Homo sapiens: one gene and its partner. The protein of the gene in region 1 interacts with the protein of each later gene in a pairwise test. Each region holds a gene or a part of one and is shown on either strand. Other genes may lie near its edges.

Evidence for each region. Proteins that work in one complex are often made in the same cells at the same time.
Region 2: the proteins of LGALS7 (region 1) and TAB1 interact in binary tests that used the Homo sapiens proteins (3 or more experiments, as listed by UniProt).

Annotation. Positions count from the first base shown.
Region 1 is NC_000019.10:38,770,516-38,778,511, reverse strand, and holds LGALS7 (galectin-7), read left to right. Parts: upstream 1-4,994; 5' UTR 4,995-5,019; coding exon 5,020-5,025; intron 5,026-5,408; coding exon 5,409-5,497; intron 5,498-6,481; coding exon 6,482-6,683; intron 6,684-7,372; coding exon 7,373-7,486; 3' UTR 7,487-7,544; downstream 7,545-7,996. UniProt on the Homo sapiens protein: Could be involved in cell-cell and/or cell-matrix interactions necessary for normal growth control. Pro-apoptotic protein that functions intracellularly upstream of JNK activation and cytochrome c release.
Region 2 is NC_000022.11:39,409,757-39,416,779, reverse strand, and holds part of TAB1 (TGF-beta-activated kinase 1 and MAP3K7-binding protein 1), read right to left. Parts: intron 1,775-7,023; coding exon 1,638-1,774; intron 1,281-1,637; coding exon 1,127-1,280; intron 1-1,126. UniProt on the Homo sapiens protein: Key adapter protein that plays an essential role in JNK and NF-kappa-B activation and proinflammatory cytokines production in response to stimulation with TLRs and cytokines.

The DNA of each region.
Region 1 (7,996 bases):
TGTTTTATTAATATTTACTATATTTATAAAAATAGAGTCGTGAGATTTCCAATGGGCATAAAAGCTTAAGAACAAAGTGAGTTTCTGGGGTTTTTTTGTTTTTGTTTTTGTTTTTTTGTTTGGTCTTTTTTTGATGGAGTCTTGCTCTGTCGCCCAGGCTCAAGTGCAGTGGTGCGATCACACACCACAACCTCCGTCTCCCGGGTTCAGGTGATTCTCCTGCTTCAGCCTCCCAAGTAGCTAGGATCACAGGTGTGTGCCACCACACCCAGCTAATATAGATATATATAATTTTTTGGTATTTTTAGTAGAGGCAGGGTTTCACTATGTTGGCCAGGCTGGTCTCAAATTCCTGACCTCAGGTGATCCACCGCCTTGGCCTCCCAAGGTGCTGGGATTACAGGGTGAACCACTGCGCCTGGCCAAGAACAAAGTGAGATTTCTTTCCTTTTTTTTTTTTTTTTTGAGAGGAAGTCTCGATCTTGTCCCCCAGGCTGGAGTGCAATGGCGTGATCTTGGCTCACTGCAACCTCTGCCTCCCAGGTTCAAGCGATTCTCCTGCCTCAGCCCCCCAAGTAGCTGGCATTACAGGTGCCTGCCACCATGCCCGGCTAATTTTTTCTATTTTTAGTAGAGACGGGGTTTCACCCTATTGGCCAGGCTGGTCTCGAACTCCTGACCTCAGGTGATCCGCCCGCCTCGGCCTCCCAAAGTGTTGGGATTATAGGCATGAGCCACCGTGCCCAGCCAAAGTGAGATTTCTAAGTGTCATTTTCATCATCAGAATGTTGATTTACAAAAAGCAGCCCCAGAATTACCTTCACTGTGTATAAAAAATAACCAAAATGTGACCAACAAATGACATTCATGGAGCCTGAATTTTAAATCTCTACAACCACCTAGTGTGCAATTAGCTACTTTTCATCTAAATTATTTCCTAAAAGAGGCATAAAGTAAGAAAAATCAGTCTACTCCCTCTTCTTTATTTTGAGACAAAAGAACCTCGGTGGCTAGTCAATGCTCAGCAGTGGCCAGGCCCAGTGGCTCATGCCTGTAATCCCAGCACTTTGGGAGGCTAAGGCAGGCAGATCGCTTGACTCCAGGAGTTCAACACCAGCCTAGGCAACATCGTAAAACCCTCTCTCTACAAAAAATACACAATTAGCCAGGCATGGTGGCGTGTGTCTGTAGCCCCAGCTACTCGGGAGGCTGAGGTGGTGAGCCCAGGAGGTTTAAGCTTGGAAGATTGAGGCTGCAGTGAGCGGAGACTGCACCACTGCACTCCAGCCTGGGTGACAGAGTGAGACCCCCATCTCAAAAACAAAACAAAACAAAACAAAACAAAAAAATGGTCAGGAGTGACACTGGCCAGTGGCTTCCTGGAACTAGAAGAGAGGCCACTATTTCCTGGACACCAGGAAACTTAATTGAGGAGGTGGTTAGATAGGTCTCCACAGTTCTCAAAATCAGTGAACTATACCTTTAATATCTGCATCTTTTATTTTATGGGAAGGATACCTTGATAGAAAGACTATTGAGAAATATATACATTTATTATTATTATTATTATTATTATTATTATTATATATACTTTTTGAGACAGAGTCTTGTTCTTTTTGCCCAGGCTAAAGCGCAATGGAGCTATCTTGGCTCACTACAATTTCTGCCTCCTGGGTTCAAGCAATTCTCCTGCCTCGGCCTCTCGAGTAGCTGGGAATGCAGGTGTGCACCACCACACCCGGCCTACATTAACTATTTAAAATTGAAAAAAGGTGACCAGGTGCGTTGGTTCACACTTGCAATCACAGCACTTTGGGAGGCTGAGGCAGGTGGATCACCTGAGGTCAGGAGTTCAAGGCCAGTCTGGCCAACATGGTGAAACCCCGTCTCTACTAAAAATACAAAAAGTAGCCAGGCGTGGTGGCAGGCACCTGAAATCCCAGCTACTTGGGAGGCTGAGGCAGGAGAATCACTTGAACCTGGAAGGCAGAGGTTGCAGTGAGCCAAGATCAAACCACTGCACTCCTGCCTGGGCAACAGAGCGAGACTCTGTCTCAAAAAACGAGAAAGAAAAAGAAAAAAGGCTCACGAAAATATTATTTCAGGCCAGGCGCAGTGGCTCACACCTGTAATCCCAACACTTTGGGAGGCCGAGGAGGGCAGATCACGAGGTCAGGAGTTCGAGACCAGCCTGACCAACATGGCGAAACCCTGTCTCTACTAAAAATACAAAAATTAGGCCAGGCGCGGTGGCTTATGCCTGTAATCCCAGCACTTTGGGAGGCCGAGGCGGGCGGATCATGAGGTCAGGAGACCGAGACCATCCTGGCTAATACAGTGAAACCCCGTCTCTACCAAAAATGCAAAAAATTAGCTGGGCGTGGTGGCGGGAGCCTGTAGTCCCAGCTACTCAGGAGGCTGAGGCAGGAGAATGGCGTGAACCAGGGAGGCGGAGCTTGCAGTGAGCCGAAATGGTGCCACTGCACTCCAGCCTGGGCGGCAGAGCAAGACTCTGTCTCAAAAAAAACCAAAAACAAACAAACAAAAAAATTAGCCAGGCATGTTGGTGGGTGCCTGTAATCCCAGCTACTCAGGAGGCTGAGGCCAAAGAATCACTTCAACCCGGGAGGTGGAGGTTGCAGCGAGCCGAGATCGCACCACTGCACTCCAGCCTGGGTGACAGGGTGAGCCTCTGTCTCAAAAAAAAAACAAAAGAAAAAAAAAACAAAAGAAAATATTGTTTCACAACTGATGAGAAACATAACCAACACTAATGAATAAGAGCCCATCGAGGATGCATATCTCAGTTACAGGAAAGGAGCCAGCCTTTTAGACTGGTAACAGATTGACTGCAACCATTTGACCAATCACTTAAGGCAAGTTGGGACTTGCACGTTGGTTGGGTGTGAAGTCATATCCAGCCACAGTGAAGAAATAGAAATAAATAAAAAGATGTTCTTGGGAAACAATAGCAAGGTACAGAATGATGTATCAAGTAATGTAAGGAGTGTCTTTTCTTTTTGTGGACTGAGGTCTCACTGTGTTGCCCAGGCTGGAGAGCTGTGGTGTGATCATAGCTCCCTGCAGCCTCTGATCTCCTGGGCTCAAGCAATTCTCCTGCCTCAGCCTCCCAAGTAGCTGGAATTACAGGCAGATGTGCGCCAACCCACTGGGCTATTTTATTTTATTTTTATTTTTTGTAGTGATGAGGTCTTGCTGTGTTGCCCAGGCGAGAGTGTCTTCTTTAGAATGGTCAATAATGTTAGAACAATGGAGTCCACCATTCAGGGGAACATTCTCGGGAACTAACTGAGCTGGGCTGGTGGTATGATCACCGGACACCCTGCTATCCTCTCTGTCCGTGCCCATGACATGTCCTTGGCACAAAGACCCCTCTGGAGCTGAGGGGCTGGCCTCTTCCTTGACTGAGAGGTGGCCCCTGTCTAAGCCTCAGTTTTGTCCTCTGCAGAATGGGGGTGCTTGCAGCCCCTACTGAAATGCAGCTGCTAGCCTCCCTCTCTGAGCTCATGTTCCCAAGAACTGGTCCCTGAGCTTGGTGCCTTGGAGTGTGTGGGGAGGGGGCGAGAGGCTGGGGGCCTGGGACGCAGAGGGTGGAGGATGGTTCTGGGTCTGCTGTCTCCACCCAAACTTTCCACTGCCAGCCTGCCTCTGCCCAGGCCTCTCAGCAGCCTGCTGGGTGGGGCAGGAGCTGGAGTGGCGAGTGGAAAAGGTCCAGGAGGGCTGCTGGGCTGCTAGGAGTGGTTTCTGCTCAGCTCCCACACCATCCCTGCCTTTCAGAAGCATCTTTCAGCCCTACCCGCCCCTCCACCAAGCCAATTCCCCAACCCTGAGTTCTCTTGCAGAGTCTTAGGCCCAAGGGGGCTGTTTCGGGCCTGGCGGGAGGGTCCCCGCCTTGCTCTGCTTTTGATCTAGGTGGTGATGGAATGCTAGGCCACCCACCACCCCAAAACCCACCTCATCCTGACCTACAAACTTGGTGGCATGATGGTAGCAGTCCTGGAAGGAGGAAGAAGAGAGACTTGAAGGAGAGAAGTGGGACAGGAATATGTGGTAGACAGAGTTAGGGGCAGAGACGGACAGAGTGAGACAGCCAGCCCCAGAGACAGAACCCACAGGAGAGGTGCGAGCAGAGGTGAGGAGAGCCAGAGGTCAGGGCAACGGGTCCTGCACGCTCCTGCCTTTGGCAAATCGCTTCCCATCCCAGCTTCAGCCTCCTCCTCTGTACAATGGGGGTGACCCATACTCCTCCCTGTTGGAATGATGGGGTCCCAATCAGTGATTTCCTGCATCTCCTGGGCAGCCGAGGGGCCTTGGAAATGACAGGCATAGTCCTAGTGGATCCCCTCCTTTCACCCCTCCTGACTGAGGACTTCCATGAACTGGGCACACTCCAGGACCCAGGGGTGCAGCGCTGAGGGGATCAGGCAGGCCCCCTGTGAACCCATGAAGCCACCCTGTCAGTCACTAGTGCTCCTATTGTGGCCGCTGTTCCATTACAGAGGCAGAAGCTTAGATTTCAGCACGGATCAGTCCAGGCAGGAGGTTCTCAGCTGGAGAGAAGGGTCTGGAGTTCCCACCCAGATTGGCCTCCCAGGACCTAATATGTCTGTGTATAAAATAAGAGAAATTACTAACAAATAAATACATGAAATGAGATAGAGGCTCTCCGTGTGCCAGGCAGCGGGAAGACAGGGGTGGAGGGGCAGTGGCACAAGGAGCCTTCTCTGCTGTGAGTTTATTACTATTAAACATTCCCTCTTATTATCAGCTCCTAGGAGAGGGGCAGTGCACCCGGGCCCTGGGTGATGGGGGGATCAGGGCCCCCAAGAAGAGGTGCCACTCCCGCTTCGCCGGGCTTGCCCCAGGGCCAGGGTCCGTGCCAGGTGTGGGTGGTGGGTGGGAAGGGGTGGGGTGAGTCATCAGGGCCAGCCCCGCCCTGCTTTTATTTAAGGTCCCCAGCAGGCCCCACCACCACGGCTGCCCAACCCGGTCCCAGCCATGTCCGTGAGTGCTCCAGGGGCCCGGGGCGGGGCCAAGCAGGGAGGGGGCTGGGGGCTCCTCTTTCAAAGGAGCAAGTGGGCAGTGAGTGTGCCACGGACTGGCCTGGGCTGTGGCCTCCGGGTAACCCCCATCCCGACTGTCCCCTCTACCTCTTTGTGGCTTCCTCTGGGGCCCTCTTTGAGGATCTTTCTGTTTGTCTTTGTTGCTCTCCCCATCTGTTTCCCTGTCTGTTTCTGGTCTCTTTCCTGCCTCTCCGCCACCCTTTCCTCTTCCACTGATTTCTGCCAGTCTCAGCCCTGGTCGGCTCCTCTGAGGGGTGACCCACCTTCTGCCTCCCTCCTTCGGTCTCACCGGCTCACAGTGGCCCCTGCACCCCACTCTTGCAGAACGTCCCCCACAAGTCCTCACTGCCCGAGGGCATCCGCCCTGGCACGGTGCTGAGAATTCGCGGCTTGGTTCCTCCCAATGCCAGCAGGTGAGGCCCCAGGCCCTAGGGGTAAAGGGTACAGGTCTCAGGATCAGCTGACTCCCAATTTTTGCAGTCCAGAAGTAGGGGCCCGAGGCCACCTGTATCCACCAGGCTAGGAGTCCGAGGCCATTTCTGACCTCAAATCTGATGTATTCGTATTTGCCCCCGTGCCTTTGTGGCTGGGGTCCCTAAGTTTCCCTAAGCATTTGAGGTCCCTGGGTAATCTCAGGGTTCCTAGATATAGTCCTATGACTTCCATGTCTGAGTCCCAGGGAACTCTGGAAATACTCCAAGTCCTGGAGACACCCTGGACCCTGGGAGTCCTTGCCAAGCCATCCTTTGACTTCCTGGCTAAGGAACTTCGGGCCTTCTGGATTCTGAGGTACCCTGGAAATACTGGGGTTCCTGGTATTATTCTTTGTCCTGTAGAAGCTGAGGGTTCCCTGAGCATCAGGAGCACCCTGGCTATCACCCAGACCTCCTGGGCAGCTCCCAGGCTCTTTGGAAATGAGGGCACCCTGCCCTAAGCGTAGTGAGTTTGGTCTGGGTAGGTTTCTGCCAAGGGCCTCATGATATTTTGGCTGCCTTGGGAATCTAAGCTCCCTGGTCATTAGTCGCCTACCTCTCCTTCTGCGGTGTGTGCCTGTCTTCAGGTCCCTGTTAATTTGGGGGTACTCTGGGAATGGGGAGTGCCAGTCCATAAGACCTTCACTTTGGTCTGGGCGGTTTATGTTTTGTTTGTTCTTTCGTTTTTTTGTAAGGTGGGGTCTCGCTATGTTGCCCAGGCTGGTCTTTAACTTCCGGGCCCAAGCGATCCTCCCTTCTCCACCTCCCAGAGTGCTGGGATTACAGGGTGAGCCACTGCACCCAGCCAACATTTCATTTACTTATTCATTCAAAGTAAATTGTAGACATCGGTATTCCTCACCCTCAACATTTCTTGGTCTGGGTGGTTTCTGAGCCCTGACGGCCACCATCCTCCTCTTCCAGGTTCCATGTAAACCTGCTGTGCGGGGAGGAGCAGGGCTCCGATGCCGCGCTGCATTTCAACCCCCGGCTGGACACGTCGGAGGTGGTCTTCAACAGCAAGGAGCAAGGCTCCTGGGGCCGCGAGGAGCGCGGGCCGGGCGTTCCTTTCCAGCGCGGGCAGCCCTTCGAGGTGCTCATCATCGCGTCAGACGACGGCTTCAAGGTGCGTCTCTGCGACAGGGGCGTGGACGCCAAGACTTAGGTCCCTGGAGCAGAGGGTTGGGCAAAGCCAGGCTATTGGTGGAAGGCAGGGAGGTTCGGGGCGGGGTGAGGGGGGTAGGGAAGTCGTGGCCAAGGCGGAGAAGGGTGTCCTTCGACCCTCTCTCTCGCCTAAACAACTCCCACTTGGGTCCGAGGGACAGAGAGACAGCAGGGTCAGGACGAGGCGAGCACCAGCCAAGTGTCCAAGGGGTGGGCGTCCTAGCGGGAAGGCGTGGCCCAGACTCGCCATCCCAGACCCTACTCCCAGTTCATTCCTTCCTGAGGTCCGGGGTTTGAGGCATGGGGAGGGATGGGTTGGAAACAGCGCCCAGGAACTCGTCCTAGCAAGGATTGGCGGGTGGGAGTGGCGGCAGATCCTCCACCACCCACAGCTTACGCGAATTCACCTCCCTCCTCTGCGCTTTAATAGCGGGTAATGGTCGCTGAAATGAGAATATCCATTACCAGCACTAAAAAAGCCTCTTTTTACTGTGCCACACAGTCAACTCGTTTGATCCTCACGCAAGAGTTAGAATGAACAATAGCCCCATTTTCCCAGTGAGGAAACTGAGGCCCAGAGGGGATGAGTGATTTCCCCAGGGCCACCCAGCACGGGCCTCCGGAATCCTCACCACCGACCCTCCCCTGCAGGCCGTGGTTGGGGACGCCCAGTACCACCACTTCCGCCACCGCCTGCCGCTGGCGCGCGTGCGCCTGGTGGAGGTGGGCGGGGACGTGCAGCTGGACTCCGTGAGGATCTTCTGAGCAGAAGCCCAGGCGGGCCCGGGGCCTTGGCTGGCAAATAAAGCGTTAGCCCGCAGCGCGACTGTGTCTGTGTCCCATTCACTGAGATGAGCAAACTGAGACCCAGAGAGGCCAAGATACTGGCTCCGGGCCACACAGCGAATCCGAGGCGGAGGCGGGCTCTGAGCCTGCCTGTGCTTAGGACACTTTCTGTCTGCGAAGGCGTGAGGGTCGCGATCTGGGAAGGAGTGGGTGTGGGGCGTGCCCTGACGCAGCATTTGTGCAAAGCAAGCCAGCTGGGAATGCGGTCGGGCGGACCTGCTGGCGTTTGGGGCGCAGAGGCGCTCACCGCAGGTCCTGGTGCCCCCACTGCAGATCTAAGGGGCGCCAACATGGGTCCATCTGCAAAGGGGGCGAATGAGTCCCACCTTTCTGGTCATTTGTGGGCCCCAATCCTACGGGTGGAAAGCGTGTTATAAGATCCCGGGTCCCTGGGTCCCGTATCCCCCTGCAGCTCATCTCTCCCACCCT
Region 2 (7,023 bases), on another chromosome or scaffold:
CAGGACAGGGCAAAGGCTGGTTCAAAACACCACTGTCACTGGTGCCAAAATGTCCTCTATTAATCAGAGCAGCAGCTTTGCTGTCTTCACTGCAGGTTCTTGTGTGATGGAGCTTTCCACATGTCAGTCCTGCCTCTGGCCCAGCACTGCAAGGCACCGGCTGCTTCCTGCAGATCAATGTCTTTGACAAAGCCCTTCAGCCTCGAAGGGGTGTGCACCCTGCAGAGGCAGCACTGCAGACGGCTGGGAGGCAGGAGACAGTGCGGAAGCTAAGAGCAAAGGCTTGGCGTAGGCCCAGCTGGTGTGACCTCTGGCCCCCTCAGTCTCACACAACGGAGGTTAAGTGTTGTTCCAGGGGTTAGGTAAGACAGTCCAACCTGGCACTCAGCAAGGCAACTGCTCAGAGAAACTGCCAGGCCTATGACAGCTCGTATGATTACTACAACTTCTTTCTGGGAGGCTTCTGTCAAACCCCACCAGCCCCAGGACACTGGTGACACTGACACCTTCTCCCCCTGTGTGAGATCTGCTGAGAATCACTGGCAATGGAGCCTGAGGTCGTGAAGGGCAGGAAAAGGCTGGCACCACCCCTCTCCGGGAACAGAAGCCCATCTTCTCATCTGAAATGGGCCTGAGACATGCTCCTGAAAGCAGATGCCAGGAGGAAAACTGCCAACAGCGCAAGCAGAAAGGTGGAACCAGTCAATGAGGGCGGCGGCCCCTCAGAAAGGGGAGGCAAGGTCCTTCCTGGACGCCCAGGGATGGCTCCTGCACCTGGAGGCTGAGCACCTGACCACATAGGAAAGAAAGGGGTAGCTCTAAATGACCCCATTTCTACCAGGCCTTGCCCTGCTCCCACCTCACACCTCTCTCCAAGCTCCCATCCCTAAATCCCCCCGTCTCCAGCAGTACCTCCTCTGCCAGCCATTGAAGGCCTGCTGCTCGCTGGCTGGTCCTGGACTCCTGTTGGGTGGGGGGGCCTACGCTGGGAGCTGCTCCTCTACTGGGGTGAAGGGGCCGGCAGGATCTTCACACCAACCCTGGCAACATGCTAGAGGTGCAGGGCCCAAGCCTTGGGGTGGGGGACATGATGTGGCTGGGTCACTGTTGGCCCCGGCACCATTACCTGCAGCAGCACACGCCGCACATCGGCCTCGGCGTGCTCGGCATTCAGCTGGCCCAGCAGGAGCTCTGCGGACAGCCGCTGGGCCACGAAGTTGGTCACTCGGTTGCCATCATAGCCGTTGAAGACCCCATACAGGAAGCAGTTGTTCTCACTCCTGGAAGAGGGAGAGGGCAGAGGGAGGCCTGAGACCAGGGTCTCACGGAGGTGGAGGGAGAAAGGGAAAGGAATTGGGGGAGACTAAAGCGACAGCAGCTGCAGCTTCAGGGGCCCTCCTGGGTCCCCCTGCTTTAGCCATCATTTCACTCTGGCTATGACATTCTGGGATACCCTCCTCCCCATGCTCACGCTACCCCATCAGAGCAGGCCCTTGGCAAGACAGCAGCAGAGGCCACCTCTCACGGGCCACATGTCACTGGCAAGCCCATACGAGAAAGCTGCAAGGTCGGTGTCTTTCCTTGCTTGCAAACCAACCAACTCCCCGGGCCCAACACAGAAATGCTGGCACACACACCTGAACTTGAGCCAGCTGTCCTCTGGCGGGTGGCTCTCAGTGCCCTTGCCATCAGCAGAGTAGCTGCGGTTGGAGGCTGAGCCAACCCCAGAGAGGTGGCAGAGAGGCAGGTCATCTGTCCAGCTTGGCTGCTGCTCCTGGGGAAGGACACCAGGAAGCCGTGAGACGCCACCGCGTCTGCAGGGTAGTCCCCACTTCACCTATTCCTTCTGCAACAAAAACCTAGCAGGCCCGCAGCCCTACACAGAGGGTTCCACTTCCTTCTGGAAAACAATAATGTTTGTATGAACAGACACCTGCAGAAGGGTTTGCTGTTTTTATGGCTAGTCTACAAACTTGTTTCCCAGGAAAACTGAGACTCCACCATTCCCAAATGTAAGGCGCAGCAATGACCTCCAGGAGTGAGCCGTTATGAAACCTAGTGAAACACACACAAATGTCGCAGACTCTTGGCAGGAAACTCTGGGGACCCCACCTCTTACTGCACTGGCTCCAAATGCACACTACAAAGAAATCCCTTGAGCATTGGTTACCAACACTGCAGGCTGCAGGCCCCACCCTCAGAATGACTGATCTGGGCAGGGCCCGGGACATCTGCAGTGCAGGCCGCTCCCCATGGGTGATGCTTTCAGGTGACCTAAGACCCAGCCTGGAGAAACTCCGACTTATAAGCTAGCCTCAGTCACTCTCTCTGGCACTGGGACCTCCAAGTACCAGGGAGAGTAACTGAGACTGGCTTTTAAGTCGGAGTTTATGAGCTAGTTTATAGGACATCCTCATGCCACCCCGATGTCCTCTCCCATCTCCCCTGCCACATCCTTCCCTCCCAGTCCCAAATGCCTACAGCCCTGTCCATCCCCTGCTCTTTGCCTCCACATGAACACCCTCCCTCTTCTTCCCTACCAATTCTCCGGGTCCTTCGGGACTCTTTGGCTCAGGAGTCACCACCTCCAGGAGGTCTTCCTTCAGGATGACCCTACCCAGGACTGGCTGATGGCCCTCTCATGTACCCCAACGGCACCCTGATTCCAGCATCCCTGCCTGTCTGCAATGCCCATTCTACCCCATAGGATCTCAAACCAGGCTGTTCAGCATAATCACTGCAGAGCTTTAAACACGCTCACACAGCGGTCCAGGCCCTGGCCCCATCCCCGGCCTAAACACAATTTCTGAATTTCCCAGATCTCCCTAGGGTACATCCTGAGCATCTGTACTTTTTAAGCCCCAGGAACAACTTTGATGCAAGGCCCAGGTGCAATTCCCTGCCTCTCCCTGAAAGCTTGCCCCAAATCTGGCCTCCCACCTGAAAACTGCGCTTTGTTCACAACGGCACTCCCAGAACCACCATGCAGAACTACAGCAAACTGGAATAACTGGGAGAACCACAGTTCAATTTCAAGGAAAATAAAATTTGTATTGGCTGGGTGCAGTGGCTCACGCCCGTAATCCCAGCACTTTGGGAAGCTGAGGTGGGTGGACCATTTGATGTCAGAAATTTGAGACCGGCCTAGCCAACCTGGTGAAACCCCATCTCTGTCTCTGTTAAAAACACAAAAAAATTAGCCAGGCATGGTGGTGCATGCCTGTAATCCCAGCTACTGGGGAGGCTGAGGCAGGAGAATCGCTTAAACCCAGGAGTCGGAGGTTGCAGCGAGCTGAGATCATGCCACTGCACTCTAGCCTGGGCGACAAGAGTGAGATTCTGTCTCAAAAAAAAAAAAATTGTATTGAAAGCTTTATTGAAATATTAAACAAACACAAGCTAGAGCAACCAGATAAGAGAAAGAAATAGAGGGCATCCAAACTGGCAAGGAAGATGTTAAATGATCCTTGTTTGCAGACGATATAATCTTATATTTGGAAAAACCTAGATTCCACCAAAAAACTATTAGAACTGATTAAACAAATTCAGTAAAGTGGCAGGATATGGGCCGGGCGCGGTGGCTCAAGCCTGTAATCCCAGCACTTTGGGAGGCTGAGGCAGGTGGATCATGAGGTCAGAAGATCGAGACCATCCTGGCTAACATGGTGAAACCCTATCTCTACTAAAAATACAAAAAACTAGCCGGGTGTGGTGGCGGGCGCCTGTAGTCCCAGCTACTCTGGAGGCTGAGGCAGGAGAATGGCATGAACCCGGGAGGCGGAGCTTGCAGTGAGCCGAGATCGTGCAACTGCACTCCAGCCTGGGTGACAGAGCGAGACTCCATCTCAAAAAAAGACTCCATCTCAAAAAAAAAAAAAAAAAAAAAAGTTGCAGGATATGGAATCAACATACAAAAATCAGTAGCATTTCTATATGCCAACAGTGAATCATCTGTAAAAGAAATAAAACACACACAGATACTGTGTGCAACTTCTTAAAAGTTATTGTTAAGTCTTCCAGAAAGGATGTGGAAACCACTTCAACAGGCTTTTGCAATCATATATATAAAAAGCCTGTGGTTAGCTTTTGTGGCAAATTGTAGCTTCTGTTTAGTTATATACTGACAGGAGTGACTTCACTTTTTTTCATATAATTGGTTTTATTCTGCTTTTATCTATTTTGGTGCTTCAGCTCTACATTTTGCACCCTGGAGCAACTTCTGCAGGGTGTGGGAGTTTGTTTTATTTTTACATTAACATGGAGTAAAACTGGCTTCTGGGGCACGCACATCTGTGAATGTTGACACATGTAGAGATGTGTGTAACTACCACCACTCTCAGGATACAGGGCAGCTCCACTCCCAACGCACTCCCTCCCCTAATCCCTGGCAACCTATTTTCCACTGCTATGGCTTTGTCTTTTTAAGAATGTCATATTAAACGCCAGGTGCAGTGGCTCACGCCTGTAATCCCAGCACTTTAGGAGGCCAAGAGGGGCTCATCACTTGAGGCCAGGAATTTGAGACCAGCCTGGCCAATGTGGCGAAACCCTGTCTCTACTGAAAATACAAAAATCAGCCGGGCGTGGTGGCGCACACCTGTAATTCCAGCTACTCAAGAGGCTGAGGCACGAGAATCACCTGAACCTGAGAGGCAGAGGTTGCCATGAGCCGAGATTGCACACCACTGCACTCCAGCCTGGGCGACGGAGTGAGACTCTGTCTCCAAACAAAACAAAACAAAACAAAACAATGTCACACAATGTCACATAAATGAAATGATGCAGTAAACATGACCTCCTGAGACTGGCTTCTTTCACTCAACATTATGTCTCTAAGACTCATCCAAGTTGTTAGCCTGTGTGCATCAACAGTCTCTCTCTCTCTTTCATAGAGTAATATACCATTGTTCGGATGTAGTAAAGTTTGTTTATCCATTCATCCACTGAAGGACATTTGGGCTGTTTCGTTTCTTATAACTATGAAGAAATATGCTATAAACATTCATGTACAGGTTTTTGTATGAATGTAACTTTTCATTTATCCAGGGTAAATACCTAGGAGTGACAGGGCTGGCTCATATGGTAAGTATATGTTTAACTTTATAAGAACCTGCCAAACTGTTTTCCAGAGCAGCTGAACCATTTGCATTTCCAATGTTGAGTTCCGGCTGCTCCACGTCCTTGCCACCATGTGGTATTGTCTTTTTCTGAATTTAGATATTCTAAGAGGTGGGTAGTGGTAGCTCATCGTGACTTTAATCTGCACTTCCTAACGGCTAACGACACTGAGTATCTTTCACGTGTTTATTTGGCACCAACTCATCCTCTTTGGTGAAGTGCAAGTTTTTTGCCTATTTTTAAATTAGGTTATTTTCTTAACTATTGTGTTCTGAGAGTTCTTTTTATTTGTAACTTAGCATTTCACTCAGTAGTGTCTTTTGCAGAGCAAAGGTTTTAGTTTAGATGAAGTCCATTTAATCCATTTTTTCTCTTTCATGGTTCATGCTTTTGGAGTCATGTTTAAGAACTCTCTGTCCAGTCCCAAGTTACAAAGAGCACCTATGTTTTTTTCTAAAAGTTTTATAGTTTTATATTTTACATTTAGATCTGTGATCCATTTTGAATTAATTTCTGTGTAAGGTAGGAAGGAGGTTTAGGTCCATTTTTTTTTTCATTCCAATATCCAATCATTCCAACACCATTTGTTGAAAAGACTAGCTTTTCTCCATTGAATTGTGTGGGTCTACTTCTAGACTCTATTCTGTTCCTGTGATCGATGTGTCTACCCCTCCACCAATACTACATTCTTGATTACTGTAGCTTTATAGTAAGTCTTTAAATTGGCTAGTGTGAGTCTCCTTATCTTCTTGCTCTTTTTCAAAATTGTTTTGGCTATTTGAGTTCCTTTGCCTTTTCATATAAATTTTAGAATCAGCTTACTTATATCCACAAGTCTTGTTGGGATTTTTATTGGAACTGCTTTAAATCTACAGATCAATTTGGGGAAAGTAGACATTGTCACTATGTTGAGTCTTCTAATCCATTAACATGGTGTGTCTCTACACTTATTTATGTCTTCACTGGGTGACTTTTATTTATTTATTTTTATTAACACAATTTTACTACAAGGTCTGAAAAGCTACTAACGCCTTCTAATAGCCTTTGAAAATAGACAGTATAACCAAACCCTACTAATGGAAATGAAAAAAAAAAGGAAGATGAAATGGCAGTAAGTGCTAGCTGAGCCAAGTATGTCACAACTAAATTAAAAAAAAAAAAAAGTAGAAATGGCAACAATTCTGCTCAGCTCCTCATGACACCAGGCTTAAATTTAACACTTTCAGTACAAGCAACGCCAAAAGAAAAACTGCTGACCTGGCACAGTGGCTCACGCCTGTAATCCCAGCACTTGGGGAGGCTGAGGCAGGTGGATCACTTGAGGTCAGGAGTTTGAGACTAGCCTGGGCAATGTGGCAAAATCCTGTCTCTACTAAAAATACAAAAATTAGCCAGGCGTGGTGGTGCGCACCTGTAATTCCAACTACTCAGGAGGCTGAGGCAGGAGAATCACTTGAATGCAGGAGGTGGAGGTTGCAGTGAGCTGAGATCACACCACTGCACTCCAGCCTGGATGACAGAGTGAGACTCAGTCTCAAAAAGAAGAAGAAAAACGGCTTCACAGTAACACAAAATTGGGTCTAGTTCTAATCTTGAACTGTTTCATTTTAAAGCAAAATTAATGCCTCTCTTAACATAAATGGGAACTTAGGTCTTCCGGACCCACATATGATATTATGTGATTACAGTACATTAAATCACTACATACATTCTTTCAATAAATATCTGCTGAGCATTTGCAACAGTCTGGCAGTATTCTGGGTACTGCGGACACAGAAGAGAAAACAGAGAGGCTCCTTATTTGAAGCCTCCCTTCTAGGGAGAGAGAGAATTCAAACACACAATACAATAATAAGGCAATCTCAGACAGCGCTACGTGCTAGGAAGAAAACACACCATGGTAAT